Linked DNA regions of Homo sapiens: regions 1, 2, 4, 5 and 6 are each linked to region 3. The links come from fine-mapping of genetic effects on plasma protein levels. A gene starts in region 3. Each other region holds a variant in brackets. All regions are shown on one strand. Distances are from middle to middle.

Region 1 (4,105 bases), 950 kb before region 3:
AACCAACAAAGATCAAAAGAGATAAAGAAGGCCATTACATAATGGTAAAGGGATCAATTCAATGAGAAGAGCTAACTATCCTAAATATATATGCACCCAATGCAGGAGCACCCAGATTCATAAAGCAAGTCCTTAGAGACCTACAAAGAGACTTAGACTCCCACACAATAACAATGGGAGACTTTAACACCCCACTGTCAACATTAGACAGATCAACGAGACATAAAGTTAACAAGGATATCCAGGAACTGAACTCAGCTCTGCACCAAGTGGACCTAATAGACATTTATAGAACTCTCCACCCCAAATCAAAAGAATATACATTCTTCTCAGCACCACATTGCACTTATTCCAAAATTGACCACATAGTTGGAAGTAAAGCACTCCTCAGCAAATGTAAAAGAACAGAAATTTTAACAAACTGTCTCTCAGACCACAGTGCAATCAAACTAGAACTCACGACTAAGAAAGTCACTCAAAACTGCTCAACTACATGGAAACTGAACAACCTACTCCTGAATGACTACTGGGTACATAACAAAATGAAGGCAGAAATAAAGATGTTCTTCGAAACCAATGAGAACAAAGATACAACAGAACAGAACCTCTGAGACACATTTAAAGCAGTGTGCAGAGGGAAATTTATAGCACCAAATGCCCACAGGAGAAAACAGGAAAGATCTAAAATTGACACCCGAACATCACAATTAAAAGAACTAGAGAAGCAAGAGCAAACACTTGCTTCTCTAAAAAAGCTAGCAGAAGGCAAGAAATAACTAAGAGCAGAACTGAAGGAGATAGAGACACAAAAAACCCTTCAAAAAATCAATGAATCCAGGAGCTGGTTTTTTGAAAAGATCAACAAAATTGATGGACCACTAGCAAGACTAATAAAGAAGAAAAGAGAGAAGAATCAAATAGATGCAATAAAAAATGACAAAGGTGATATCGCCATCGATCCCACGAACTACAGACTACCATCAGAGAATACCAGAAGCACCTCTACGCAAATAAACTAGAAAATCTAGAAGAAATGGATAAATTCCTGGACACACACAACCCCCCAAGACTAAACCAGGAAGAAGTTGAATCCCTGAATAGACCAATAATAGGCTCTGTAAATGAGGTAGTATTTAATAGCCTACCAACCAAAAAAAGTCCAGGACTAGACGTATTCACAGCCGAATTCTACCAGAGGTATAAAGAGGAGCTGGTACCACTCCTTCTGAAACTATTCCAATCAATAGAAAAAGAGGGAATCCTCCCTAACTCGTTTTATGAGACCAGCATCATCCTGATACCAAAGCCTGGCAGAGACACAACAAAAAAAAGAGAATTTTAGACCAATATCCCTGATGAACATTGATGCGAAAATCCTCAGTAAAATACTAGCAAACTGAATCCAGTAGCACATCAAAAAGCTTATCTGCCAAGATCAAGTGGGCTTCATCCTTTGATGCAAGGCTGGTTCAACATATGCAAACCAATAAACATAATCCATTATATAAACAGAACCAAAGACAAAAAACCACATGATTATCTCAATAGATGCAGAAAAGTCCTTTGACAAAATTCAACAGCCCTTCACGCTAAAAACTCTCAACAAACTAGGTATTGATGGGACGTATCTCAAAATAATACGAGCTACTTATGACAAACCCACAGCCAATATCATACTGAATGGGCAAAACCCAGAAGCATTCCCTTTGAAAACTGGCACAAGACAGGGATGCCCTCTCTCACCACTCCTATTCAACATAGTGTTGAAAGTTCTGGCCAGGGCAGTCAGGCAAGAGAAAGAAATAAAGGGTATTGAATTAGGAAAAGAGGAAGTCAAATTGTCCCTGTTTGCAGACGACATGATTGTATATTTGGAAAACCCCACTGTCTCAGCCCAAAATCTACTTAAGCTGATAAGCAACTTCAGCAAAGTCTCAGGATACAAAATCAATGTGCAAAAATCACAAGCATTCCTATACACCAATAACAGACAAACAGAGAGCCAAATCAGGAATGAACTCCCATTCACAACTGCTTCAAAGAGAATAAAATACTTAGGAATCCAACTAGCAAGGGATGCGAAGGACCTCTTCAAGGAGAACTACAAACCACTGCTCAACAAAATAAAAGAGGACACAAATAAATGGAAGAACATTCCATGCTCATGGATAGGAAGAAT[C/T]AATACTGTGAAAATGGCCATACTGCCCAAGGTAATTTATAGATTCAATGCCATCCCCATAAAGCCACCAATGACTTTGTTCACAGAATTGGAAAAAACTACTTTAAAGTTCATATGGAACCAAGAAAGAGCCTGCATTGCCAAGACAATTCTAAGCCAAAAGAACAAAGCTGGAGGCATCACGCTACCTGACTTCAAACTATACTACAAGGCTACAGTAACCAAAACAGCATGGTACTGGTACCAAAACAGAGATACAGACCAATGGAACAGAATAGAGCCCTGAGAAATAATACCACACATCTACAACCATCTGATCTTTGACAAACCTGACAAAAACAAGAAATGGGGAAAGGATTCCCTATTTAATAAATGGTGCTGGGAAAACTGGCTAGCCATATGTAGAAAGCTGAAACTGGATCCCTTCCTTACACCTTATACAAAAATTAATTCATGATGGATTAAAGACTTAAATGTTAGACCTAAAACCATAAAAACCCTAGAAGAAAACCTAGGCAATACCATTCAGGACATAGACATGGGCAAGCACTTCATGTCTAAAACACCAAAAGTAATGGCAACAAAAGCCAAAATTGACCAATGGGATCTAATTAAACTGAAGAGCTTCTGCACAGCAAAAGAAGCTATCATCACAGTGAACAGGCAAGCTATAGAATAGGAGAAAATTTTTGCCATCTATCCATCTGACAAACGGCTAATATCCAAAATCTACAAAGAACTTAAACAAATTTACAAGAAAAAACCATCAAAAAGTGGGCGAAGGATATGAACAGACACTTCTCAAAAGAAGACATTTATGCAGCCAACCAACATATGAAAAAAAGCTCATCATCACGGGTCATTAGAGAAATGCAAATCAAAACCACAATGAGATACCATCTCACACTAGTTGGAATGGCGATCATTAAAAAGTCAGGAAACAACAGGTGCTGGAGAGGATGTGGAGAAATAGGAACGCTTTTACACTGTTGGTGGAAGTGTAAATTAGTCCAACCATTGTGGAAAAGACAGTGTGGTGATTCCTCAAGGATCTAGAACTAGAAATACCATTTGCCCAAGCCATCCCATTACTGGGTATATACCCAAAGGATTATAAATCATGCTGCTATAAAGACACATGCACATGTATGTTTACTGCGGCACTATTCACAATAGCAAAGACTTGGAACCAACCCAAATGTCCATCAATGATAGACTGGATTAAGAAAATGTGGCACATATACACCATGGAATACTATGCAGCCATAAAAAGGATGAGTTCATGTCCTTTGTAGGGATATGGATGAAGCTGGAATCCATCATTCTGAGCAAACTATCGCAAGGACAGAAAACCAAACACCACATGTTCTCACTCATAGGTGAGAACTGAACAATGAGAACACTTGGACACAGGGTGGGGAACATCACACACTGGAGCCTGTTGTGGGGTTGGGGGATGGGGGAGGGATAGCATTAGGAGATACACCTAATGTAAATGACGAGTTAATGGGAGCAGCACATCAACATGGCATATAGATACATATGTAACAAACCTGCACGTTGTGCACATGTATCCTAGAACTTTAAGTATAATAACAATAATAAAAAAACAAAAACAAAAGCAAAAACAAAACCCAAGCCCTTTCCCATCTAGGCTTTTAAATATTCTGTTTCCTCAGTCTGGAGTGCTCACTCCCTAACTGTTAACACTGACTTCAGCTCAGAGATCACCTCCTCAGAGAAGCTTTCCCAAATCCTTGATCTGAAGTAAACCCTCCTTTCCAGCCAGTCTGTTCCATAATCTTGTTTATTTCCTTCATAGTACTCATCGAGTTTGTTTGTTTGTTTGTTTTCTCTTGAGATGGAGTTTTGCTCTGTCACCCAGGCTGGAGTGCAGCGGCACAATCTTGGTTCACTGCAACCTCC
Region 2 (4,095 bases), 1.9 Mb after region 3:
AACTCTAGGCAGAGGGGGTCTCGAGGGCCATTTTCCATGGTCCTGTTCCTGGACTTAGGGTTTCTGTGTTGCCTTCCAAATCAGGGCATCCTAGGGCCGGCTCCTAAACTGTCTGCCTCCATGAAGGCCGCCTTATATGGTTCTTCCTGATTTGTACCTGGAGGTGAGCTTGGAGACTGTCTTATCTGGTCTCATGTTGCTAGTTGGGTCTGTAGGGCAGGGGGTTGATACTCCTCTTGACTTGAGACCACCCTCGGCCTTAGCAGAAGGCCAGCCCCCCATGGAACAGAAGAGATAGGGTGGCAGCTCTGCCTGGCAGATGAGAGGAAGGCCCTTCAGCCTTGAGGCCTTCAGAGGGATCATCCCTTTGGCCCTCTGCTTATCCTCCATAACCCAGTGACCCTTAGCATTTCCTCTCGTCTGGCACAGAGACCACAACCTCCCCTCGAGGTCTTCATTGAGTGTTTAGAGAGAGACAGACTGATAGAATTCCAGGAGGACTCCTATCCCCTGCCTTTTTTTGGCCCTAAATAAAGCCATCCACTGTAGGGTTGCCCCTACAATCCACAAAGTCCTTGTCCCTAAGGAGCCATGTTGGTCTTGTCTGTGCCGGGGGTAGTCATAGCTGCTATTCTTCGCTGTGGCTCCATTGTCCCTTCTTTCCCATTTCTGCCGGATGTGGGGACCACAGTCAGGTCAGCAGCCAGGTGCCATCATTTGGGAGCATGTGAGCTTGGATGCTCTGGCCAGGTTTTCATAGCCACCCAGAATGGTCCTGACTTTTCCCGTTGGAGACCATGGAATGGGTCTCCATCTTGACCATCTCTGGGAGCAGGGTGGATGGGAAATCCACTTGAGGGTGGACTTCAAGCAGACACAGAGGGAAGCAGCCTTGGTCAGCACCACAGACCTCGACAGAGCCATGCCTCTGTTCCAGAGGCCTCTCTGTTCCAGGTTCAGGCCCCTGCAGGTTTTAGGGGTAGGTGAAGGCTCCCGGGAGAGGGGGGCCATGTGCCTGCAAGCCTGGGCACGTGCCCGCGGGAGGGGTGAGTACTGAACGTGCTTTGAGTCACTCACTGAGTCATGGCTCAGCCGCCACAGAACATTGTTATAATAACAGACATAGAGAAGAAAAACCTGGCACAAGAAGATAGGAAATTCTGTCTTCACTCCAAACCATGACCAAGAATGGAGATTCCAACACCAGCAAGAATTTGTGATCGCTTAACTTGGGTCATGACCACAATTTCAGCATAGAACATTTGTAATTCAGTTTGATCAATCTTTTCCTAATTTTTATTAAGACTGCAACGAAAGTGTGCCCTCATTATTACATTTTTCACAAACCTGTTAGCATACAAAGGGCCTTTGTTTCTCATTACCACCCGGGGCTCCTTAAGGCGTTTTATGGAGTGATGTGCTTTATTAAAAAGCGTTTTCACCAACTTAAAAGTTGGAATAATTGTCCAAATGGTTACATGACCCAGGAGTTCTATATTTTTATTAATTTTCTGATACTGAAATAATCGTGCTAATTAAGATAACAGCTGAATTTATGCTGATGAATGTTGGAATTCTTAGAAGCCACCTGAAACCTTCCAAATGGTCAGGACCTGGATCCCACTGGCCAGTGCCAACAGGTGACTCTGGGTGGTGCTGGGGGATACAGGGAACCTAGCTGTGTTCTGCTTGGCACCAATGGCTGCTGATGCATGTGTTTCCTCCACCAGGTTCCCTAAGGATGCCACATTGAAGAACAAATACACCCCAAACTACCTAGGTCAGCTGACTGGCGATGTTTTATGGATCTCTCTTTAAAAGTGTTCTGTCGGCCAGGCGCAGTGGCTCACCCCTGTAATCCCAACACTTTGGGAGGCCGAGGCAGGCGGATCATCTGAGGTCAGGAGTTTGAGACCAGCCTGCCCAACATGGCAAAACCCCGTCTCTTCTAAAAATACAAAAAATTAGCCAGGTGTGGTGGCG[G/A]GCGCCTCTCATCCCAGCTACTCAGGAGGCTGAGACAGGAGAATCGCTTGAACCCGGGAGGCGGAGGTTGCACTGAGTCGAGATCGCGCCACTGCACTCCAGCCTGGGTGACGAGCAAAACTCCATCTCAAAAAAAAAAAAAAAAAAGTGTTCTCTGTCTTAATTAAGGATGATGGTTTATCCAATTCCAAATGTTTACCAAAAATCTAAGATAAGGATATCACCATGATGTTTGAAAGAGAATTTATGCCCTGGTTGTGATGTTGGGGTTTTATTGATAAGAGTTTCAGTTATCTGGATGATATGTGCACGTGTAAGGAAACAGAATGGTTTGCCAGTTGTCCAGGTGGCCATGAAGAGAACCTCTGGAGGTCTAGGAATGTGAAGCTCAGATTTTGGAAACCTGGTCCGGTGTCCTGGGCCACAGGTAAGTGGCTGAAGCTGGTGGTTTGCTGCCATCTTCTGGCCATAGTGTGGAATTTATCAGAAGCAGCTACCAATGAGGGTGTCTGGAGCTCTATAAATTGCAAGCCTGGGCAAGATAGCCAGACCCCATCTTTACGAAAACTGTTTAAAAATTAGCTGGGCATGGTAGCACACATCTGTAGTCTCAGCTATTTAAGAGGTTGAGGTGGGAGGATTGCTGGACTCCAGGAGTTTGAGGCTGCAGTGAAAGATTATGCCACTCCACTCCAGACTGGGTGACAGTGAGACCCTGTCTCTTCAAAAAAAGAGAGAGAGAAATCACAACAGTGGAATTCAGTAGTGCTGGAGCTTAGTGAGTAATCTTACCCTGTCTTTAACGTGAATTCTGGTTTTAGGGTGAGCTATGTCTTAGGACATAGTTGAGATAACAGTGAGTGACTAGTCAAGAAAACAGCCGGGCACAGTGGCTCACACCTGTAATCCCAGCACTTTGGGAGGCCAAGGTGGGTGGATCACTTGAGGTCAGGAGTTCGAGACCACCCTGATCAACATGGTGAAACCCCATCTCTACTGAAAATACAGAAATTAGCCGGGTGTGATTGTGTGCACCTGTGATCCCAGCTACTGGGGAGGCTGAGGAAGGAAAATCACTTGAACCTGGGAGGCAGAGGTTTCAGTGAGCTGAGATTATGCCACCACACTCCAGCCTGAGCTGAGATTATGCCACCACACTCCAGCCTGAGCTGAGATTATGCCACCACACTCCAGCCTGAGCAGCAGAATGAGACTCTGTCTCAAAAAGAAAACAACAACAACAACAACAAAAAACCAGAAACCACTCTAGGTGTTTCCAATGGAAGGAATTTAAATATAAGGGATTGATTATGAAAGTGTGTGAAGGACAAAAAGGGGAGTAGTTATCCAGCGGTGAGTGACTATAGAAGCCTCTGTCACCTATAAGCTGGCAAAGGGGGCAGCAGTGTTACCCACAGCCTCTGACTGCTGAGTCAGTGGCGCCCGTGGGAAGCCAGGAGCTGCATGCTGGCTGACGCTGCAGGTGCCTGGGAACCTGCTAACCTGGCCCCTCCACCCATGCTGGTGAGTTGGTGCTGCTGGGGCACCTGCTGCCCTAGTGAATGGGTGCCACCAGGAAGAGAGGATTCAAGCCTGTCTTGCTCAAGACCTCCTCCACCACCAGACTTGCCTCAAGATCTCAGGCCCAAGAAGCCCCAGGGAGTGGAGTGACAGGAGCCTTGCTCTGGGAGGCAGGAGACCTGGATTCTAGTTCCTCCTCCTCTCACTGACTGGGCCTCTGGAGAGAAGGGCAGGGACATTCTGGCATGTGGCAGGAGCCACTCTGTGTCATGGGGTTGGATCCCAAGCTGGCACCTGGCAGGATTTAATGAAGAAACATTTATCAAGTGCTGGATCAGTCCAGCTCCTGGCAGGAAACTGACAGCATGTACCAGGAAAGATGCAGCTGGAAGAGAGTTTAATGAGGGGACTACTTACAGAGCTGCAGGCTCTGGGAAGCCAATAAGGGATGGTGAAGCACAGCTGTTACCAGTCCTGGGCTCTAGGGGTAGGGACAGAGTAGTCATCAGGACCAGTGGGGCTGTGGCTAAAGGTGGAAGCTTCAGAGGGAGGATGCTGGGGGAATAATTACCCTGGCCTCTTGTTCCTCCC
Region 3 (4,102 bases):
TTTAAGTGATTCTCCTGCCTCAGCCTCCTGAATAGCTGGGATTATAGGTGTGGGCCACCATGCCTGGATAATTTTTGTGTTTTTGTTGTTGTTGTTGTTGTTGTTGAGATGGAGTCTTGCTCTGTCACTGAGGCTGGAGTAACAGTAGCATGATCTCGGCTCACTGCAACCCCCACCTCCCAGGTTGAAGCAATTCTCCTGCCTCAGCCTCCTGAGTAGCTGGGATTACAGGCACCCACCACCATGCCGGGCTAATTTTTGTATTTTTAGTAGAGATAGGTTTCACCATGTTGGCCAAGCTGGTCTCAAACTCCCGACCTCAGGTGACCCGCCCACCTCGGCCTCCCAAAGTGTTGGGATTACGGGTGTGAGCCACCACTCCCAGCCAAAAAAAATTTTTTTAATCTTATTACCATATTTCAGCTAGAACAAAATGCTGCTAAAGTAACAATGATCACACAAAGTATATGATTTCTGAGTGCTGTAAGTGTAAGCAGAAGTTAACACCAGCTGGTTGTTAAATGCTAACTTTAGTCATTTAAAGGAAATTGCAAGGCAGAATCCCAAGCCAGTTTCTTACCTAGTGATGGGTCTCAGGCTGTAGACTGCTCTCTACCATCCCAGAAGCAGGAAAAAAAAACTAATTTTCCCTGTTGGAAGCGAGCTCAAACTCCATAAAGGAGTTACCTGCCTTCCATCGTCATGGAAGCAGAAAAACTTGCTTTCCTTTTGGGAGCAAGTAAAACTCCAAAAAAAAAAAAAAAAAAAAAAAGAGTTGTACAGCAAAATAAACTTTAGATCTCAACCAATTGAGAAATCAAGGATTCTCTGGAGGGGGTGCTCCCAGACCTCAGCAAATTGTCCTATTGGTTTGAGCCATAAAGTTAGCTCCTGCTGGTACCAAGCACAGATAGGCAATTAGTCAAAAGTCAAGGACATCTCCACACAGAATCCATCCATAGTTACCAAATGTGAACCCAGAAAATCTGAGACAGCTCTCAGTTAATTTAAAAAGTTTATTTTGCTGAGGTTGAAGATGCATCCAAGACACAGCCTCAGGAAGTCCTGATGACATGTGCCCAAGGTGTTCCGGGCACAGCTTGGTTTTATACATTTTAGGGAGATATGAGACATCTATCAATACGTAAGAAGTACCTTAGCCAAGCGTGGTGGCTCAAGCCTGTAATCCCAGCACTTTGGGAGGCCAAGGTGGGCAGATCACAAGGTCAGGAGTTCAAGACCAGCCTGGCCAATATGGTGAAACCCTGTCTCTACTAAACATATAAAAATTAGCTGGGTGTGGTGGCACGCGCCTGTAGTCCCAGCTACTCTGGAGGCTGAGGCAGGAGAATCGCTTGAACCCGGGAGCCAGAGGTTGCAGTGAGCCGAGATCATGCCATTGCACTCCAGCCTGGGCGACAGAGTGAGACTTCATCTAAAAAAAAATTAGGCCAGGCGCGGTGGCTCACACCTGTAATCCCAGCACTTTGGGAAGCTGAGGCAGGCAGATCACAAGGTCAGGAGATCGAGACCATCCTGGCTAACACGGTGAAACCTCGTCTCTACTAAAAATACAAAAAATTAGCCAGGCGTGGTGGCGGGCGCCTGTAGTCCCAGCTACTCGGGAGGCTGAGGCAGGAGAATGGCATGAACCCGGGGGGCAGAGCTTGCAGTGAGCTGAGATCGCACCACTGCACTCCAGCCTGGGCGACAGAGCGAGACTCCGTCTCAAAAAATAAAAATAAAAAAAAAACAGAAGTACATAAGCTCTGTCCAGAGAGGTGGAGACAGCTCAAAGCACGGCCCCCCACTGGGGGCTTCCAGGTCACAGGCAGGTGACAGACAGATGGTTGCATTCTTTTGAGTTTCTGGTAGTCTTTCCAAAAGAGGCAATGGAGGCAATCATAATATGCATCTATGTCTGTAAGCAAAAGGATGACTTGAATAGAATGGGAGGCAGATTTGTCCTGAGCGGTTCCCAGCTTGAAGGGGCCCAAGATATTTTCCTTTCACATATTGAACAAGTGAAACCACAAATGAATGAACAAGCATGTGCTCACTGACAGCTCATATGCATGGTCACACAAACACAGGATCTCATGCTCACAAGACAGCAGGGCTCACACACACCCAGTCCCAGGCACTGGGTTCCACACTCACACCTACTTGCCACTGGAATTTGTGCAGAGGCTCAGATGGTCACTAAATGGGGCTTCACAAAGACACAGTCACTAACCCAGCACATATACAAAGGGTGATGACACAGCCCTGACTTCATGAACACAGTGCCTTTCAGAAACAGGTCCCTACAACAGGGATGACTTATCCACTAAGCACAATAGACCCAAGGCCTAGGGCCACAGTACTTTCAGGGGCCCACAAAATGTTTTTTTAATCAGAAGAAGAATATAAATGTAAATATATTAATAATTAATATATAATAGTGTAACCCAGACATGACCTCCTGGGCTCAAGCACTCCTCCTGCCTCAGTGTCCCAAGTAGCTGGGACTACAGGTACATACCACCATGCCCAGCTAATTTTTAATTTTTTTGTAGAGATGGGGTCTTGCTACATTGCCTAGGCTGGTCTCGAACTCCTGGGCTCAAGCAATTCTCCCACCTCAGCCTCCCAAAGTGCTAAGACTATAGCCATATATATATATATATATATATATATATATATATATATATATTTTTTTTTTTTTTTTTTTTTTTGAGATGGAGTCGCTCTCTGTCACCCAGGCTGGAGTATAGTAGCACAGTGGAGCAGTCTTGGCTCACTGCAACCTCTGCCTCCCGGGTTCAAGGGATTGTCCTGCCTCAGCCTCCCGAGTAGCTGGGATTACAGGCGCCTGCCACCACGCCCGGCTAATTTTTTGTATTTTTAGTAGAGAAGGGGTTTCACCATGTTAGCCGGGATGGTCTCGATCTCCTGACCTCGTGATCTGCCACCTCGGCTTCCCAAAGTGCTAGGATTATAGGCGTGAGCCTCCGCACCTGGCATGCCTGGCCATATTTTAAAATATTTTTTTTAAGGAGGAAAAGATCCACGAAAGTAAAGTGCCTAGGGCCCATCAATGTCAGATGCAGCCACGTGGACAAAGAACACTCCCTGAGCACAAGACACGAAAGAACCCGGTCTCCAGTGTCACAAACAGGCCTGCCCAGCAGGGTCTGCCCCTGCCCACCTCCTCCAGCCTAGGTAAGGCCACAAAGCCCTGCCCTAGTGCTGACAGCGTGGGAGGGGCCACTGTTGGCCCAGCCCCACCCCCAACCAAGATCCCTTTGCCAGGGATTCAGAGGTAGCCCTGATGCCTGGCTGGCCTGGCCTCCTAATCCAAGGCCCGCCCCTTGGCCCGCCCCTGGCCTGGGTGGGGTGACCCCCTACAAAAGCTCAGAATTTCCAGCAGCGGCTCCTTCCTCCAGGAGTCTCTGGTGCAGCTGGGGTGGAATCTGGCCAGGCCCTGCTTAGGCCCCCATCCTGGGGTCAGGAAATTTGGAGGATAAGGCCCTTCAGCCCCAAGGTCAGCAGGGACGAGCGGGCAGACTGGCGGGTGTACAGGAGGGCTGGGTTGACCTGTCCTTGGTCACTGAGGCCATTGGATCTTCCTCCAGTGGCTGCCAGGATTTCTGGTGGAAGAGACAGGAAGGCCTCCCCCCCTTGGTCGGGTCAGCCTGGGGGCTGAGGGCCTGGCTGTCAGCCACTCTTCCCAGAACATATGTCATGGCCTCAGTGGCTCATGGGGAAGCAGGGGTGGGCGAGCTTAGGCTAGAGCAAGTCCTGTGGGAGATGGCAGAGGCCTGGTCTGAGAGGCAACTCGGATGTGCCCTCCAGTGGCCATGCTCCCCTCCATGCGTCTCCCCTGCCCTCCTGGAGCCCTGCAGGTCAATGTTTAACAGAAACCAGAGCAGCGGTGGATTAATGCGCAAGGGCTCAGCCCCCCAGCCCTGAGCAGTGGGGGAATCGGAGACTTTGCAACCTGTTCTCAGCTCTGCCTCCCCTGGCCAGGTTGTCCTCGACCAGTCCCGTGCCATGGCAGCCCACCTGCTTCCCATCTGCGCCCTCTTCCTGACCTTACTCGATATGGCCCAAGGCTTTA
Region 4 (4,105 bases), 1.8 Mb after region 3:
AGTGCAAGGCCTCGCAGCTAGATTCCGTGGCTAGCCAGATGTGCTCTGTGAGAACCCTGGCCACGCTCACAGGCCTCTTTCTACTTTCTCTCTGGACAGGGACCTGTCCTATATCAAGATCATGGATGTGGGCCAGAGCTACGTGGTGAACCGTGTGGCTGACCACATCCAGAGCCGCATCGTATATTACCTCATGAACATCCACGTGACCCCCCGCTCCATCTACCTCTGCCGGCACGGGGAGAGCGAGCTCAACCTCAAGGGCCGGATTGGCGGGGACCCAGGACTGTCCCCTCGGGGCAGGGAGGTCAGTGCATGTGTCCCTGCGTGCGCACACGGGCCTGCATTTGTACCCTGCGTGGCTGGGTATATGCATGTGTGAGTGCGCTGGGGCTAGGCTCCCATTCTTTTAATGTGCAGTCGAGGTGAATGACCTTCATTCAACCTAGAATCTTCCCATCATGTAGGGAAGGTCATCAAGCAACAGGCAAATGCCTGGATCTCTGGTTTCCATGTGAGCTGTCACTCACTGAGCCCCTTTTGTCAGAGGCATGCCACCCTTAGAGCGACCTGAGTCCATACAGTGTAGCAGATAGCTGTGCCACAGTCCAGGGGAGACCTCAGTGGTCACGTAGCACAGGGCACCTGGTTGTGGGGAGGCAGTGGCCCTGATGAGTCTCAGCTGTAACTGTGCTGCTGTGCTCAGGGTCTGGGAGGGTGCACAGGAACAGCACTTGTGTTCTTGTGTGTCAGCATGTGTGTCATCGACAAGTTAGTTCATGCTTTTTACCAAACCTGTAGTGAGTGTTCAAGGCGAGGGTGATCTCATGGACCCTGCGGCTATGGGATGCTTTAAGGGCAGCCCAAGACCTGTGGGTCTGAGTTTGCTTATGATGTATTTCAGTTTGCCAAGAGTCTAGCCCAGTTCATCAGTGACCAAAATATCAAGGATCTGAAGGTCTGGACAAGCCAGATGAAGAGGACAATCCAGACGGCTGAGGCACTGGGTGTGCCCTATGAACAGTGGAAGGTCCTCAACGAGATCGATGCGGTAGTTACCGTCCCTCCCTCCCTGTCTACCTCCCAGATACCGCAGGGCTGCTGCATCATATTGTAACAACAGTGACCATTGCTCCCCTTGGGCAAAGGAGAGGAGAGAGAAAGGATACAGGAACCTAGGGGCTGGGAGCAGAGAGGAAAAGGCAGCCTAACAGGATGGGACCTTGGGTGAGCCCTAGACCATTCTCAGGAGTGAGCCTGGGAGTTGACACCTCAACCTCACTCTCCTCCCTCCCTGTGGCCTCCTGCTAGGGTTCCTCATGGTCTAGCTCAACAAGAAATCAGCGGCCACGGGAGCTTGGTAGCTGCAGTCAGCCATAGCCAACCTCCCAGGGATCTGGAGACACAAATGAGGTGAACCAGCACGGCCTTTGTCTCTTTAAAGATGCTGTTCTCGCCAGGTGCGGTGGCTCACCCTTGTAATCCCAGCACTTTGGGAGGCTGAGGCGGGCGGATCACCTCAAGTCAGGAGTTTGAGTCCAGCCTGGCCAACATGGTGAAACCCCATCTCTACTGAAAATACAAAAATTAGCCAGGCATGGTGGTGGGTACCTGTAATCCCACGTACTCGGGAGGCTGAGGCAGGAGAATTGCTTGAACCCAGGAGACAGAGGTTGCAGTGGGCTGAGATTGTGCCACTGCACTCCAGCCTGGGCAACAGAGTGATGTTCTGTCTCAAAAAAAAAAAAATGCTCTTCTGCTGACTTCTGGGTTGCATTGTTTCTAAGAGAAGTCTGTTGTCATTCTCATCTTTGCTCTTCTGGATATAATGTTACCTCCTTTTTCTCTGACTGCCTTTAATATTTTCTTTTCTTCTTTTTTTTTTTTTTTTCAAGACAAGATCTTACTCTGTCACCCAAGCTGGAGTGCTGTGGTGCAATCATAGCTCACTGTAGCCTCAACTTCCTGGGCTCAAGCCATCCTCCCATCTCAACCTCCTGACTAGCTGGGACTACAGGCACTTGCCACCATGCCAGGCTAATCTTTTCTAATTTTTGTAGAGACGGAGTCTCATGATGTTGCCTAGGCTGGAATATTTT[C/G]TCTTTATTGCTGATTTTTAGCAATTTGATTATGATGTATCTCAGTATGGTTTTCTTTATGTTTATCATCCTTGGGGTTTATTGAGATTCTCGGATTTCTGGGTTTCTAAATATAAAATGTGAAGAATTGTTGGCCATCATTTCTTCAAAGGTATTTTCTGCCACCCCTTCTCCCATCCTGGACTCCCACTCTGTGTGTGTTAGACTGTTTGGTATCATCCCACAGGTCACTGAACTTCTGGTTTTTTAATTTCTTCTGTTCATTTCTTCTCTGTCTTTTTTTCCTTCCGAGCTTTAATTTAGATAGTTTCTACTGCTATGTCTTCAAATTCACTTATCTTTACTTCTGCATTTTTATTAAACCCATCCAGTGAACTTTTCATATCAGATGTGGTGTTTTGAAGCTCCAGGAATTTCATTTTGTTCCTTTTTTGAATCTTCCATTATTTCTTCATTATGCTTGGCTCTGCAGTCCAGGAAGTGCCTCTGGGCAGTAAGCTGCTGCCTCCTCCCCTCAGCTTGCTTCCCTTCTCTCAAGGATCACAGTCCTGCCTAGTCTCGTGTCTAAAAACAGTTGTTTGATTTGTCCCTTTATTTATTTATTTTTTTGAGACGGAGGTTTGCTCCTGTTGTCCAGGCTGGAGTGCAATGGCACGATCTCGGCTCACTGCCACCTTCGTCTCCCGGGTTCAAGCGATTCTTGTGCCTCAGCCTCCAGAGTAGCTGGGATTATAGGCACCCGCCACCACACCAACTAATTTTTGTATTTTTAGTAGAGACAGGGTTTCACCACGTTGGCCAGGCTGGTCTTGAATTCCTGACCTCAGGCAATCCACCCACCTCAACCTCCCAAAGTTCTAGGATTACAGGTGTCAGCCACAGCGCCCTGCCAATTTGTCCTTTTTTAATAATAGTTGTTTTTGTTGGGGCCAGAGCAAATCTGGTACCAGTTGCTCCATCATGGCTTGGTCTTTATTATGGGTGGTTCCCATTTCAATATGAAAAGCTTTTTCTGTGGATATATACTTTGACTAATTTGAATATTACCACCCCTGCTTTTGTTTTTCCATTTTTTTTTACTGTGGTAAAATATGCATAACATAAAATTTACCATCATAGCTGTTTTGAAGTGTACGTTTCAGGAGTATGAAGTACATTTACATTGTTATGCAACTCTCACCACCATGCATCTCCAGAACTCTTTTAATCTTGTAAAACAGAAACTCTGTACCCACTGAACAATAACTCAAGCCAGATGTGCTGGCTCACACCTATAGTCCCAGGTACTTGGGAGGCTGAGGTGGGAGGATTGCTTGAGCCCATGAGTTTGAGGCTGTGGTGTGCTATGATTTCATTCACGATTGGCCCTTGCACTCCAGCCTGGACAACATAGTGAGACCCCATCTCTAAAAAAATTTTAAAAAGAAAAACAATAACTCTATTTGCTACTCCCAGCCCCTGGCAACCACTTTCTGTCTTTATGACTTTGACTACTTTATATACCTCATATAAGTGAAATCATATAGTATTTGTCTTTTTGTAACTGGTTACTTTAGTTAGCATAATATCCTCAAGGTTCATCCATGTTGTAGCTTGTGCAAGAGTTTCCTTCCTGTTTATTTTTTAAGACAGCATCTCACTCTGTCACCCAGGCTACAGTGCAATGTGGAAATCACTGCAGCCTCAAACTCCTAGACTCAACGATTCTCTTGCCTCCCTAGTAGCTGGGACTAACAAGTGCACACCACCATGCCTAGATAATTTTTTTATTTTTTGTAGAGAAGGGAGGCTCACTATATTGCCCAGGTTGGTCTCAAACTCCTAGCCTCAAGCGATTCTACCACTTTGGCCTCTCAAAGTGCTAGGATTACAAATGTGAACCATCACACCCAGCCTTAAGAATTTTCTTCCTTTCTAAGGCAGAATAAGATTCTATTGTATACCACATTTCGTGTATCCATTCATCTGCCAATGGACACTTGGACAGCTTCCACTTTTTAGCTATT
Region 5 (4,000 bases), 570 kb after region 3:
TGTGGCCAGGTGCAGTGGCTCATGCCTGTAATCCTAGTACTTTGGGAGGCGGGCAGATCACCTGAGGTCAGTAGTTCAAGACCAGCCTGGCTAACATGGCAAAACCCTGTCTCTGCTAAAAAATACAAAAAGTAGCCGAGCGTGGTGGCAGGCACCTGTAATCCCCGCTCCTCAGGAGGCTGAGGCAGGAGAATCACCTCGGGAGGCGGAGATTGCAGTGAGCTGAGGTTGCACCACTGCACTCCAGCCTGGGCGACAGAGCAAGATTCCATCTCAAAAAAAAAAAAAAAGAAAAAAGAAAAAACAGGGATTCAAATGGATTGTTGTAAGCCAGTGTTCACAACAGCATCATTCATAATAGCTAAAAGGTGGAAACAACCCAAGTGTCCATCAATATAGATAATACATAACAGATGTGATATATACTTACAATGGAATACTATTGAGCCATAAAAAAGAATGAAGTTCTGATATATGCTGTGACACAGATGAACCTTGCAAACACTATGCTAAGTGAACTAAGCCAGACACAAAAGAACAAACATTGTATGATTTCACTTATATGAAATATGCATAATAGGCAAATCTGTAGAGATAGAAAGTAGATTTGGTTACTGGGGCTAGGAGGAAGGGAAAATGGGGAGTTACTGCTTAATGGGTACAGCATTTTTGTTTCAGGTGATGAAAAACATTTTGGAAATAGATAATGGTGGTGGTTATTCAGTATTGTCAATGTACTTAATGCCCACTGAATTGTACCTTTAAAAATGATTAAATGGCTGGGCATGGTGGCTCACACCAGTAATCCTAGCACTTTGGGAAGCGAAGGCAAGAGGATTGTTTGAGGCCCGGAGTTCCAGACCAGACTGGGCAACATAGCAAGCCTTGTCGCTACCAAAAAAAAAAAAAAAAAAAAAAGAATTGCAAATTTTATGTTTCTATCGATCGATCTATTGACTGAACACCACAACTTATTTTTATTTTTATATTTTATAGAGACAGGGTCTTGCTGTGTTGCTCAGGCTGGTCTTGAACTCCTGTGTTCAAGCAGTCCTGCCTTGGCCTCCCAAAGAGCTGGAATTACAGTGTGAGCCACTGAACCTGGCCCAAACACCACAATTTTATTTTATTTTTATTTTATTTTTTTGAGATGGAGTGTTGCTCTGTTGCCCAGGCTGATCTTGGCTCACTGCAACCTCCGTCTCCCGGCTTCAAGTGATTCTCCTGCCTCAGCCTCCTGAGTAGCTGGGATTATAGGCACGCACCACCATGTCTGGATAACTGTTGTATTTTTAGTAGAGATGGGGTTTCGACATGTTGGCCAGGCTGGTGTGGAACTCCTGATCTCAGGTGAGGTCCCAGCTACTTGAGAGGCTGAGGCAGGAGGATCACTTGAGTCCAGGAGTTCGAGGTTGTAGTGAGCTATGATGGCACCACTGCACTCCAATGGGACCCTGTCTCTTAAGAAGAAGAAGAATATTATAAAGAACTTTAGGCCGGGCCTGGTGGCTCACGCCTGTAATCCCAGCACTTTGGGAGGCCGAGACGGGTGGATCACGAGGTCAGGAGATGAGACCATCCTGGCTAACATGGTGAAACCCCGTCTCTACTAAAAATACAAAAAAATTAGCCAGGCATGGTGGCGGGTGCCTGTAGTCCCAGCTACTCAGGAGGCTGAGGCAAGAGAATCGCTTGAACCTGGGAGGCGGAGCTTGCAGTGAGCCGAGATCACGCCACTGCACTCCAGCCTGGGCGACAGAG[C/T]GAGACTCTGTCTCAAAAAAAAAAAAAAAAGAACTTTAAGCCAATAATTATTCTACAACATAAAAGAAATTGACAAAACATAGGGAGATCCTGTCTCTACAAAAAATAAACCATAAATGCTTCTCACTGATTTTCAGATTATAGAGCCAACTGTGTACATCTGAGAGTATAAAAGCAGAAATGTAGCTGACAGACAAAAGGTGGGATGTGGAAGTGAGACCAAGTTACTTTTTTTTCCCTTCAAAACCTCCTCCTCAAGTTTCTGGATATATGTATTTTTAAATTGTATTAAGAACACTTGAGAGGGGTCTTATTTGTGTTTTAACTCACTAAGATCCAGAAGACACTACAAACAACCCATTTGATTAAAATGGGCACAAAAAACTATTACGGATACAGCACGGCAAACAGAAGGATGTTTTATCTTCGAGATGCCAGGGGTGGAAGTTCTGTGTAGTGAGGCTGGGATAGCCTGATGCTCAGTGTGGGCAGAACACAGATTTTTTTGGACCGTCTTGGAGGGAGAAGTGTTGATGTCCCTTTGGCTGACACTGTCAGGCAGAAGGAAACTAGATCTAAAGGAGGACACACACAGGAAATGGCAGCATAAAGCACTTAAGTAACTAGAGGGTTAAGTGATGCCAGGTGTGGGTGTCACCTAGCGAACACAGTTCTTTTGAATGGTACAAAAAATCAGTAATTGAAAGTGAGAGGGCCAGATAAGAGAAGGGGAAATATAGACTTATCCAGGAACAAAGGTAAGCATCAGATTTAGCTTGGGGATGGACGGTCATCCATTTTCTGGAAGTTACTGTCTGCTGGCTGTTGTTCTGATATTGATCTGTAGTTGGTTCAGGGCAGGTGATGTCTTCATGCTGTGTGGGAAAGTGAGTGCCAACAGTCTGTGCTGCATAGACTCGGCCTGTGTTGACATTTGTTTACCAACTGCCCTTTTTTTAACAGGCGTGGTATCTGTCTGTTTTGAGGGGGACAGTGATGGTTACATCAACTTAGTGGCCTATCCTTATGTGGAAAGTGAGACTGTGGAACAGGATGACACAACAGAACGGGAGCAACCTCGGCGCAAACACTCCCGCCGGAGCCTGCACCGGTCAGGCAGTGGCAGTGACCACAAGGAGGAGAAAGCCAGCCTGTCCCTTGAGACCTCTGAGAGGTAAGAGGTACATGTTTCGTCCTGCTGGTACAAGCACTCAAGACGTCTCCATAGTCCTGACACATCATGGGGAAGCAGGGCTCACAGTCAAGGTTGGATAAGATGACTGGTGTTCTTGGGATACCCACACAGGTGTAGCCTCTTCTCTGTGTCACATCACCCCAGTGGTGCCTCTTTCTGGGTATAGCTGTAGCTGGTTGAGAGAGGAAGTGAAGCTCTCTCAGCCGTTTGGAAGCAGGGACACCCTGTGCTGGTGACAAAAGGTTCTCTGGCTTTTCATTATGTCTTGCCACCCACAGGACAGAAGGTTGAAATACATTAGTTCGTAGCGAGGCTCCAAATGCTTTCTGACCTGCAGGATGTCCAAGCCCAAGGGCTATGAGTCCAACCAGGAGTTCCCTAATGGTTTTTGTGTCAGACCTCTGAGAATCATATCAGTCATTAACGCTTTCCCTGCAACTAAAATTTAGTTTCCGTTGTGTTGGAAATTGATTTTTCTTGTAAGTTCAAATTATGTTTTTTTGTTTGTTTTGAGATGGAGTCTTGCTGTTAGGCTGGAATGCAGTGGTGCCATCTTGCGTCACTGCAACCTCTCCCTCCTGGGTTCAAGCAATTCTCCTGCCTCTGCCTCCCAAGTAGCTGGGATTACAGGCGTGCACCACCACACCCAGCTAATTTTTGTATTTTTAGTGGAGATGTTGTGTCACCATGTTGGCTAGGCTGGTCTCGAACTCCTGACCTCAGGCGATTCGCCTGCCTTGGCTTCCCAAAGTGCTGGGATTATAGGCATGAGCCACTGTACCAGCCTCAAATTATGTGTCTTGATAATTTCATGCAAGAATTAATATGAACTCCCACTAGGATGGGTATAATCAAAAGGACAGACAATAAAAGTGTTGACAAGATGTGAAGAAATGGAACCCTCCTACACTGCTGGTAGGAAGGTAAAGTGGTGCAGCCACTTGGGAAACAATTTAGCAGTTCTTCAAAAAGTTAAACCAGGCTGAGTGCTGTGGCTCACGCTTGTAATCCTAATGCTTCAGGAGGCTGAGGTGGGAGGATCCT
Region 6 (4,105 bases), 3.0 Mb after region 3:
GCTGTAGTGTAGTGGTGCAATTATGGCTCATGATAGCCTTGACCTCTTGAGCTCAAGTGATCCTCCTACCTCAACCTGCCAAGTAGCTGAAACCACACACCTAGCTAATTAAAAAAAAAAAAAAAAAGTGTTTTTTGGTAGAGAAAGCATCTCCCTATGTTGCCCAGACTGGTCTCAAACTCCTAGGCTCGAGCAATCCTCCTGCCTTGGCCTCCCAAAGTGCTGGGATTACAGGCATGAGCCACTGTGCCCAGCTTGTTTTTCTTACTACTGTTGCATCTAAGAAAATTCCAAACGAGCCCAGTGCGATTCTAAAATCTTGGTGACAGCAGCAGACCCTGGGGGATTCTTATTTGGCTCCATGACTGATTCTCTGTAGGGATGGTATTGATCAGATTAAAAATTGGCCGGGCATGCTTTTCTTCATTAGAAAGGTTTATGTCTTTTCCCCGACGTTAAGGTTTTAGGCACAGGGTTATATTTATTTAGCAATATTCACTATTGTCCCCTAGCAGTTGACCCATCAAGGACTGAATGAATGGGCAAGGTACCTTGGAGCCTGGCTTTATGACTAGTCAAAATTCTACATAGTTATTTCATTCCAGCCTGAGCTTGCTCTGTCCATTGCTTTGGAAACTGATGTGAATTTAGAAGAGCACAGAAACATAAGCAGAGAGCAAGATGTAGGCAAAGTTCATGGCCACTGAGGAATACAGCGCTGAAGGTCAGAATGTCAGCTCAGTCATCTGTCAAATGCCTTTCTCCTAAAGCACTTATAGTGATTGAATGAGACTTGTTAAAGCACTTTACAAATATAAGGCAGATATAAAGATAAACCTTCCCTGGGCCTCTACAGCATGTGCTTCACTATTTCCTAACACTTTGACATCAACCTGAGAGGAGGATTCAAAATGCCACGGGGCAGAAGCTGGATCAAGTCCAAGGATATGGGAGCCAATGATCAACGTAGCCATTGGCATTCATTTCCAAACTCTCCTTCTCAGGTTAGGATTCTCGTACCTTATTTTTGGGTGTCTTTGATTAGCTTGGCATAATACTGAGCACAAAACACACCTTTTTTTTTCCCTTTTGTTTTTTTTGAGACGGAGTCTCCTGGTGTTGCCGAGGCTAGAGTGCAGCGGCATGATCTCAGCTCACTGCAACCTCTGCCTCCTGGGTTCAAGTGATTCTCCTGGCTCAGCCTCCCAAGTAGCTGGGATTACAGGCGTGCGCCACCACGGCCGGCTCATTTTTGTATTTTTAGTAGAGATGGCATTTCACCATGTTGGCCAGGCTGGTCTCCAACTACTGACCTCAGGCGATCTGCCTGCCTCGGCCTCCAAAAGTGCCAGGATAACAAGCGTGAGCCACCACGCCCGGCCAAAACACACCTTCCTTTTTTTTTTTCTTTTTTTTTGAGATGTAGCTTCGCTCTTGTTGCCCAGGCTGGAGTGCAATGGCACGATCTCGGCTCACCGCAACCTCCACTTCCCAGGTTCAAGCGATTCTCCTGCCTCACCCTCCCGAGTAGCTGGGATTACAGGTGCCTGCAACCATAGCCAGCTAAGTTTTTTGTATTTTTAGTAGAGATGGGGTTTCACTATGTTGGCCAGGCTGGTCTCGAACTCCCGACCTCAGGTGATCCACCCTGCCTCGGCCTCCCAGAGTGTTGGGATTACAGGCGTGAGTCAACGTACCCAGCCAAAACACACCTTCTTAACTGAACTGGGCTTTTACATCCAAGAGGATGGGGGACGTGGGGAGCCTGTTTGTGAGGCAATTAGTGGGGGAAAAGGAAGGAGAGCGGCCACACAGGAAAGGGGCCCATGCAAGAGGAGGAGGGAGATATGAGGGAAAATAAACCTACAGCTACAGGGTTGATGGAGACCCACGTCTTTCATTAGCCACATCACAACCTTCTTCCTTGCTGACACAGCTTGACTTTGGAAGCAAGAAGACAGCATAAGACATAATGCTTTATCAGAGGCAGGAAGCGGTGACTTGAATTAAACAGGTTACTGACGTGGTTCATTGACGCATTTG[G/T]TGTACCAATCTACCTCTGAGAGAATTTCAGAAAATACACAGCTCCAAGGCTGGGTGTGGTGACTCACACCTGTAATCTCAGCACTTTGGGAGGCCGAGGTGGGCAGATCACTTGAGGTCAGGAGATCAAGACCAGCCTGGCCAACATGGTGAAACCCCATCTCTACTAAAAATACAAAAATTAGCTGGGTGTGGTGGCACACGCCTGTAGCCCCAGCTGCTCCGGAGGCTGAGGCAGGAGAATCGCTTGAACCTGGGAGGTGGTGGTTGCAGTGAGCTGAGATCATGCCACTGCATTCCTGCCTGGGCGACAGAGCAAGACTCTGTCTCAAAAATAAATAAATAAATAAAAATACAAAAATTAGCCGGGCATGGTGGCAGGCACCTGTAATCCTGCTACTCCGGAGGCTGAGGCAGGAGAATGCTTGAGCTCGGGAGGCAGAGGTGGCAGTGAGCCGAGATCACGAAACTGCACTCCAGCCTGGGTGACAGAGTGAGACTCCATCTCAAAAAAAAAAAAAAGCAAGAAAATACACAGCTCCAGTGCTTGCCTAAAAGCAAGGAGGCCCATACATTTGAAGGCCGGAAATAGGGCCACCAGAAAAAGTCAACCCCAGCCTCAGGGGGAAAAAAAGCAGCGGGCTGAAGATGTAATAGACTGAGCAGCCTCAGGAACTGTGGCTTTAAGAACTCTGATGGCATTGTGGCTTCTCTGTGCTGTCACATATCTTTTCCACTGGTGCTCAGAATGGTTTTCCTCAAGTCGCTGGCAATCAAATCTTGAAAATGATGCACCCTCGGCTGGGCGTGGTGGCTCACGCCTGTAATCCCAGCACTTTGGGAGGCTGAGGCGGGCGGATCACAAGGTCAGGAGATCGAGACCATCCTGGCTAACATGGTGAAACCCCGTCTCTACTAAAAGTACAAAAAATTAGCCAGGCGTGGTGGCAGGCGCCTGTAGTCCCAGCTACTTGGGAGGCTGAGGCGAGAGAATGGCGTGAACACAGGAGGCGGAGCTTGCAGTGAGCCAAGATCGCGCCACTGCACTCCAGCCTGGGCAACAAGAGTGACACTCTGTCTCACAGAGCAAGGCTCCGCCTTAAAAAAAAAAAGAAAAAAAAGAAAATGATGCACCTTCAAGGGCACATACGAAGTGGGGAGCTGGGAGACACCATCACATTCTGTAGCGAGGCTCAGGGAGAATCATTCCAAGGAACAGAGACAATAATAGGAACTACTGGTGAGAAAACAGAAAGCAGGCCATGGCTCTGGAGTCTGTGGCAGGAAACAGGAGAGGTATAGGTTTAGGTCTCAGAAAGGGTCCTGAAGGGCTGAATGAAAAAATGTCAAAGATAGGCTCAAAACATCAGGTTTATGCGTAAGTACTTATTCCTAAAATGCTACTGGTGCATGCAAACCTGCACTGGCCTAAAAATGACTTTTCTTTTTTCTTTTTAGTTTTTAGAGACAGAGTCTTGCTCAGTTGCCCAAGCTGGAGTAAGGTGATTGTAACTCACTGCAGCCTTGGGCTCCTGGTTCAAGCAGTTCTCCCACCTTAGCCTCTCCAGTAGCTGGGACTATAGATGTGAGCCACTGCACTTGACTAATTAAAAAAATTTTTTTTTTGTAGAGACAGGGTCTTGCTCTGCCATACAGGCTGGTCTGGAAATCCTAACCTCAAGCAATCCTCCTGCCTTGGCCTCCCAAAATGCTGGGATTACAGCATGAACCACCTCATCTGGCCTAAAAATCACTTTTCTAAGCAACTTTTAGATAACAGTACTTTACAACATAGCCTGGATCCAGTGTTGACAGTGACAATCTCAAAAGCCCCCTAGGTGGAGCTGTTGTCCATTGGTGAAGATTCGAGGCTCGTCAACAATCCTTTCCAGGATTAATCCTACTTAGCCACAGAGTCATTTCAGCAGTGGTAAAGCCCAAGGCCTCCAAGCCTGGGGCTCTACCTTACAGAAAAAAAAAAAAAAAAAAAAAAAAAAGAAAGAAAGAAAAAGAAAAAAGGAAGTCATTTTCCAAGTTCTGTGGGAAAAAGAGGTGAACTAAG

Which allele goes with the higher level. Positions count from the first base shown, and alleles are read on the strand shown. Strength reflects both the effect of a copy and how common the allele is.
For the plasma level of the protein whose gene starts at base 3,418 in region 3, C is the high allele of the variant in region 1 and T is the other (moderate association).
With allele A in place of G in region 2, the plasma level of the protein whose gene starts at base 3,418 in region 3 is lower (strong association).
With allele C in place of G in region 4, the plasma level of the protein whose gene starts at base 3,418 in region 3 is higher (weak association).
For the plasma level of the protein whose gene starts at base 3,418 in region 3, allele T in region 5 goes with a lower level than allele C (moderate association).
For the plasma level of the protein whose gene starts at base 3,418 in region 3, allele G in region 6 goes with a higher level than allele T (moderate association).

The links. PIP is the chance, under the fine-mapping model, that this variant and not a neighbour inherited with it causes the effect. Protein levels are from antibody-based Olink assays in UK Biobank. Linkage for the fine-mapping came from a reference panel and not from the study's own genotypes, which makes the PIPs less certain.
Region 1: its variant is fine-mapped to the plasma level of the HYAL1 protein (UK Biobank, PIP above 0.99).
Region 2: its variant is fine-mapped to the plasma level of the HYAL1 protein (UK Biobank, PIP above 0.99).
Region 4: its variant is fine-mapped to the plasma level of the HYAL1 protein (UK Biobank, PIP above 0.99).
Region 5: its variant is fine-mapped to the plasma level of the HYAL1 protein (UK Biobank, PIP above 0.99).
Region 6: its variant is fine-mapped to the plasma level of the HYAL1 protein (UK Biobank, PIP above 0.99).

The regions. Positions count from the first base shown.
Region 1 is chr3:51,250,551-51,254,655 of GRCh38, reverse strand. The region is part of intron 22 of DOCK3 (dedicator of cytokinesis 3); the gene reads right to left. Among named protein-coding and RNA genes, the nearest start is that of MANF, 130 kb to the left of the region's middle. The variant C/T (reference allele first, on the strand shown) is at 2,180.
Region 2 is chr3:48,399,405-48,403,499 of GRCh38, reverse strand. No RefSeq gene overlaps it. Among named protein-coding and RNA genes, the nearest start is that of PLXNB1, 29 kb to the left of the region's middle. The variant G/A (reference allele first, on the strand shown) is at 1,984.
Region 3 is chr3:50,302,890-50,306,991 of GRCh38, reverse strand. HYAL1 (hyaluronidase 1) reads left to right here and starts at 3,418. Exons shown (of 4, transcript NM_033159.4): 1 at 3,418-3,526; 2 at 4,012-4,102. The coding sequence starts at 4,036. RefSeq lists enhancers at 3,013-3,182, 3,000-3,934.
Region 4 is chr3:48,532,458-48,536,562 of GRCh38, reverse strand. It overlaps PFKFB4 (6-phosphofructo-2-kinase/fructose-2,6-biphosphatase 4), which reads left to right. Exons shown (of 14, transcript NM_004567.4): 8 at 100-307; 9 at 905-1,051. Among named protein-coding and RNA genes, the nearest start is that of MIR6823, 16 kb to the left of the region's middle. The variant C/G (reference allele first, on the strand shown) is at 2,100.
Region 5 is chr3:49,737,147-49,741,146 of GRCh38, reverse strand. IP6K1 (inositol hexakisphosphate kinase 1) reads left to right here. Exons shown (of 6, transcript NM_153273.4): 3 at 2,725-2,935. Among named protein-coding and RNA genes, the nearest start is that of GMPPB, 15 kb to the right of the region's middle. The variant C/T (reference allele first, on the strand shown) is at 1,762.
Region 6 is chr3:47,324,234-47,328,338 of GRCh38, reverse strand. The region is part of intron 3 of KLHL18 (kelch like family member 18); the gene reads right to left. Among named protein-coding and RNA genes, the nearest start is that of KLHL18, 43 kb to the right of the region's middle. The variant G/T (reference allele first, on the strand shown) is at 2,044.